Linked DNA regions of Homo sapiens: region 2 is linked to region 1. Evidence: fine-mapped expression QTL. Tissue or cell type: B cells. Region 1 holds a variant in brackets; the other region holds the start of a gene. All regions are shown on one strand. Distances are between the middles of the regions.

Region 1 (2,684 bases):
TAACTATTGAAATAAAAAATGTACTCCCCCTACTTATTGATATACAAGTTCACTAGCTTGTGCAGAGGCTCCAAATACCTGCAATTTCATGAACCAGAGGTTTGCTTTTCTCCCACATGACAGCCTCGCCATCGGGGGATTGTGGGGGCTGGGGGGCGGGGGCGAGGGGCGAGCTAGTTGGGCGGCTCCCGGGGCTGATCCTCGACCTGCCCATCTTGGGCTCTGTCATTGACGGAGGCTTTTCTTGTCCACCTGGTCCAAGGAGGTGCAAGTCACATCAGGCAGGAGGGAAGAGGAAAAGGGTAAGTGGGGCGTACTCATGCATTTAAGGGTACACTGGGAAGGTACACACCAGCTGCAAGGCAGGATGGGAAATTCAGTTCCGGTCCAGGCAACTAAACTTTGGGATTTCTAATGTTAAATGAAGGGGATGAGGGGTATCAAGGGTCAGCCCGCAGCCTCTGCCCCCTCTATGTGCTCCTGGAAGTCATCTACTCTCCTACCACGGGATCCCACCAGGGCATCCCACATTTTGTGAAAATTAGCTGATTAGGAAAGCATCCTTTCTGCACTACTGTCCGGGGTGGGTGGGGGGGTTGGTTAGGAACCAGCAGTTCCCTAAGTCATGGTACCGGACCTCCCCCATCTTGGGAGAGCAAAGGCTGTCTACTGTGTCCACCAACCCTGATGCACACCCACACAGCTTTCCTGCTGCCTGTGCTGAGCCAGGCACTGTGCTTGAGATGTGCACGGTATTTGACATGGAGTCAGGGTGGGTGGTACCCAGACTCCCAAGTCACTCCGTGGTGAGACAGACTCACAGGGCTCCAAGGACAAGTCAAAATAATTTGGCCTGGCCTCTTTGTTTTAGAGGTTGGCCAACTGGTGTCAAAAGCTGGAGAGGGACTCGTTCAAGGGCATGGGGTTCTAGGTGATGGAGCCAAGAGCCACCTGGGTCCCTGGGCTCTTTCCAATGAACACCACCATGGCCTCACTGGTCCTGAATGATCCCTTTTTAAATTAAAGAGATATATGGTCACCAAATCAAACACCGTTGAATCTTTCTGTTCCCTGCCCATCTTTTCCCAGAGACATCCACAAGTAAAGACACTTTACTGTTTGTGCAAGTTTCTTCCAAATCTTGTAAGAGCAAGTGCTTCACGGGGATTCAAGTTGCTCTGTGATCTCTCAATGCCGGCCCCCAGAGGAGGGATTAGCTCTCTTCCTCCACTTGCCACCATAACTCACAGCCTCCTGCATGGCTAAATTACCGTTTTCAATGACATCATCATAATCAGCATTTATGTCATGTGGCCAAGTAGATGTTATTTACAGCAGAGCCAAGTATGGCAATATGGTTGCATTTTCTTTCTTATACTACTTTTGATTTCTCTTGAATTAATAATTTCCTTGTTCTTTTCACTGCAAAATTTGCTTACAAATATTTAGTTCTTACCAAATCCTCCATCATTTCATCTGCTCCCATATTTTACAAGCTGTTTTGAACACAACCCATTATAAGAAGTATATTTTACAACAAGGCCTGGCGTGCGCGTGCACACACACACACACACAC[T/ACT]CAATATAAAACTAAAATTTCGCAGAATATTCTTACCTCACTATAAGTAATGCCCTTTGATATTTTCTACTGAGTTCTGTTATTTCACATTTTAAAATGCTGGTCAAGACTCACTGAATGGAATTCAGGCTCCATTATAGAGGCTTAACCTGCAGTTTGAGAATTGAGAAGCTTGGGCTTATCCCCCAAGGCCCAGCTTCTCCTGTAGTCAGTCTCACCCTGGGCTCTATTGACTGCAGCCTCTGTCCATAGTTCAAGTCTGTCATGGGTGGGCTCTCAGGTGATGGATGCAGGGGCAAAGGGAAAGCCTTCTGAAGGCTTCCGTCTTTAACTCTGTGGCTGCTTTAAACTGACAATAAACAGATTACCCGGAGGAAAGGCATACACATGTATTACCATGCACATATGCCTAAGAGCCACACAAAACATGAGACTCATGGAGAAGCCAGATGGTTGAAGTCTTTATAGCTTGTAGGAGTGGAGGCTTGAGGCTTTTGGGGGAGGTGGTGACAAGTTAGAAAGGAAAGGGGAGGAACTGAATGGTAAACAAAAGTTGCCTTGTTATTCAGATAAAGTCTCTAGAAGAATGGACAACAGCCTTTCTGAGTGCAGTGAGGACTTCCAATCTCCTCTCAGGTGACCAGTCTTTCCCGGCTGTTTGAAGAGATTCCTAGGGAGGAGGTCATGCCAGTCACATTTCTTTTGGAAGTACATCCCTCAGGCAGATAAGGGAATCCCAGAGAGATCCCCTGGCCAAAGATCATGCTTTGGAAGTGAAGGAGAGACAGGAGAAGGTCAGAGAGACATGTGAGTTCTGAGGCCCTCTTCTGAGGTCTTTCAATATCCTTTGTTCAAAGCACTCAGGTTTGAACATTATCTTGGGGTATTGTTTTCTGAGTCCTGACACTGAGCAACTCTCATCTGCAGACTTCTCTTTGCTCCTTTCCTGGGATGCTGAACTTTTTCATGAAACCTGTGTTTTCTGTCTTCATTAATTTTCTGCTTTCCCAAACTACTTTTTTTTTTAATTAAAGAAAACATCATTGAGTAACTTCTAAATTACTTCTTTTTAATTGAGGAAAACAAAATTTTGAGTGACTCTCCAGCC
Region 2 (2,684 bases), 380 kb after region 1:
AGCGGTGTCACATCCAAGTTAGTGTCTCTGCTTGCTGCTTCCTCAGTTATCTCCTTGAAACAAATTTCTTTAAATTGACTCTGCAGAATACCATTCCAGAACTTGCCATCATGTCTAATGAATATAAATTTCTGTAACAATTTTCAAAATTGGCCACCAGCATCATGGGTTCTCAGCATCCACATTATAAATTTCAGAGGCTTCCAGACCTGCATATCTCGTCACTGAATAGATCCGAGCTTAAAATCAGAAGAACTGAATCATCATGCACTCTGAGGCTTCAAGAAACATTTAATCCGGGTAACCAACACACAGTAATAAAAACACTTTTATCATCACTTTATGATATTAACTTGTAAGGATGCTCAATTAAAAACCTATTGATTGATCAAACATTTAGCCCTTTGAAAAGTATTTTTTAACAATTGCTTTGTGCAAAACACTGTTAGGTGTGATGAAGTGTCCACAGAACCATAATACAATTCAATTAAATGAGGCAAATAATGATGAGTTCCTGCCATGCATGAAGAATTCTGCTAGATTGCGTGATCCAGAAGTGAGCAAAATGCAGATCTTATCGCTGTCAAGATGACAGAGTAAAGTGATGTATCCACTAAATCAGTAACTCTAATGTAATAACTTTGTGCTAAATAGGAGATGAGTTCACACTGGACACAGGCAAAGGCTGGCAAACGCCTTCATTTCCTACAAGTTACATGCTGCATGGGGCACATGGGTGCTCAAGGAGACAGTGGGCCTGGGTAGCCTACGAGAATCGTGGCTATGAGCACTGACCCTAGACTCAGACCCTGCAGGTGGAAGCCAGCTCTGCTCCTACTCACCATGAATGTGCTTAGGACATTAGAATGCTCTGGCCTCAGTTTCCGAATCTCTAAAAACCAGACACTGATACCTAATTCATTATGGATGAGACAGTGCCCGTAGAGAGCTCCTGTGAGGCGTGCCTGGGCCCAGAGGTTGAGCGGATGGCTGTTACTATTGGAGGGTTACAGCAGGCTTTGGTTCCCACTGGATCCACCGAGAGCTCTGTCCTTCACCGCAGCCAGCAAGACTGTCTTCGGTACACAAGCACCATCCTGCCTCAGGAACATGACGTTGCATCCAGACATGGTACCAAACTGTGTGCCTCCCAGTCTAGCAGAGGCTTCAAAGCCATCAAGCCCAAACCCCACCATGCTCCCTGTGCACTGAGCCATCCCTACACGGTGTGGGAGACAACTTAGTGTGGGGCCACCGTATGGGTTAACCTGGCTGTTCTCTGGCTGGCTGCAGTCTGCCAAAGTAATAAGCAGCAGTGAGAAGTTAAGTAAACATCACAATGTAATTAAGTTGCTATGGCAGTAAATCTTAGTGACTCAGGTTCAGAAAAGGAGTGGCTCTCAACCAGGGGCAGTTGTCCCCTCCGGGGAACACTTGCTAATGTCTGGACACAGTTTTGGTTGTCACGACTAGGTAAAGGTGTAACTGGCATTTACTGGGTAGAGGCCAGAGATGCTGTAAGCATCCTGTACAATGTGCAGGACAGTCCCACAACAGAGACTGCCCAGCCCAAAATGTCAATAATGCTGAGGTTCAGAAACCTCGACACAGCAGCAGCAATGGCTGGTGCTTGTTGGAGGAGGAGGGTGGCTTAACTAGAGTCTTGAAGGATCATGAAAGTTAGAAGAGCAGGCAGGAGAGGGGAGCCTTCCAGGAGGGGTCCCAGCACAAGCAAGGATGGGAGGGAAGACTGTCTGAGGGGTAGTGAGCAGGCTGGCTCAGCTGGAGGGGCGTCTGTGCAGGTGATGTGTGGAGGGCGTGTGGGGTTTGCTCTCCAGGCCTAAGCAAATCCTTGGGCTTCCGCTGAGAAACTCCCCATCCCTGTCCTTGTGGTGAGGAGGGACTTTCAGTCAAATGACAACACTGTCCCTGAGTCCAGGGGGTAACATGTGGCCAAGACAGGACCATCCTGTCCTCCTGTGGGGACCTGAATGGTGAACAGTGACACATGAGTGGATTCACCATGATGGCCACACAGAGGACCCAGGAGCTGCCCTGATGTCCCCAAGCCCCGTGAATCTGGCTCTTCATATTTAATTTTCCTACAGACTTAACCCATTTCTTCCTATAAATGTCTTCAAAAAATTAAATCAAGGAATCCAGAGTCGGTTTCCATTGCTTGCACTCGAAGTTGGATGGGGGTCTGTGGCTTGGGTCTTCCTCTACCTTCCTGCCACATACCTTCTAGTGCCTGGACCCTGACTGTGGGGACAGTGGAGTCTGCCGAGCAGATACACACTCCACTGAATTATGGGACTGTGGTGTGTTGTGCACTGATGTTTGCAAGACACACACACACACACACACACACACACATACACAGAGGAGAGAGGACACATAGGGACAGCCAGGTTCACAGCAGACACTGAGCAACCACTTTCCTTTCTTCCTTGGTAACAGAGCCACACTTTTGTTCACCCCTCCAGTAGAAAACAATGTGCTGAAGGAAGGTGGCCCTGCCTCAGCCCTAAGCAGAGCAAAGTGATTGGTCAGTGGTTCAAAGCCAATCACAGTAATCCTCTCCCCTTTGCTTGTGATTGGTTTGCGAGTAGGCCTGTCATCCAGTTCTATTAATAGCTAATGGGACCTAAGAGACATCTACTAGAGGCTTCCGGGAAAGCCTT

Direction of the effects. Alleles are on the strand shown, and positions count from the first base shown. SD is a standard deviation of normalised expression in the study named.
For the expression in B cells of the gene that starts at base 1,371 in region 2, allele ACT in region 1 goes with a higher level than allele T (large effect, 1.1 SD a copy in Schmiedel 2018).

Evidence for each region. PIP is the estimated chance that this variant, and not a neighbour inherited with it, causes the effect.
Region 2: it holds the start of LINC01522, and the variant in region 1 is fine-mapped to the expression of LINC01522 in B cells (Schmiedel 2018, PIP 0.95).

Annotation. Positions count from the first base shown.
Region 1 is chr20:48,369,970-48,372,653 of GRCh38, reverse strand. LINC00494 (long intergenic non-protein coding RNA 494) reads right to left here. Exons shown (of 5, transcript NR_026958.1): 5 at 2,016-2,684. Among named protein-coding and RNA genes, the nearest start is that of LINC00494, 11 kb to the right of the region's middle. The variant T/ACT (reference allele first, on the strand shown) is at 1,577.
Region 2 is chr20:47,988,804-47,991,487 of GRCh38, reverse strand. LINC01522 (long intergenic non-protein coding RNA 1522) reads left to right here and starts at 1,371. Exons shown (of 3, transcript NR_110027.1): 1 at 1,371-1,473. All of the region lies in intron 1 of LOC107985436 (a long non-coding RNA gene), which reads right to left.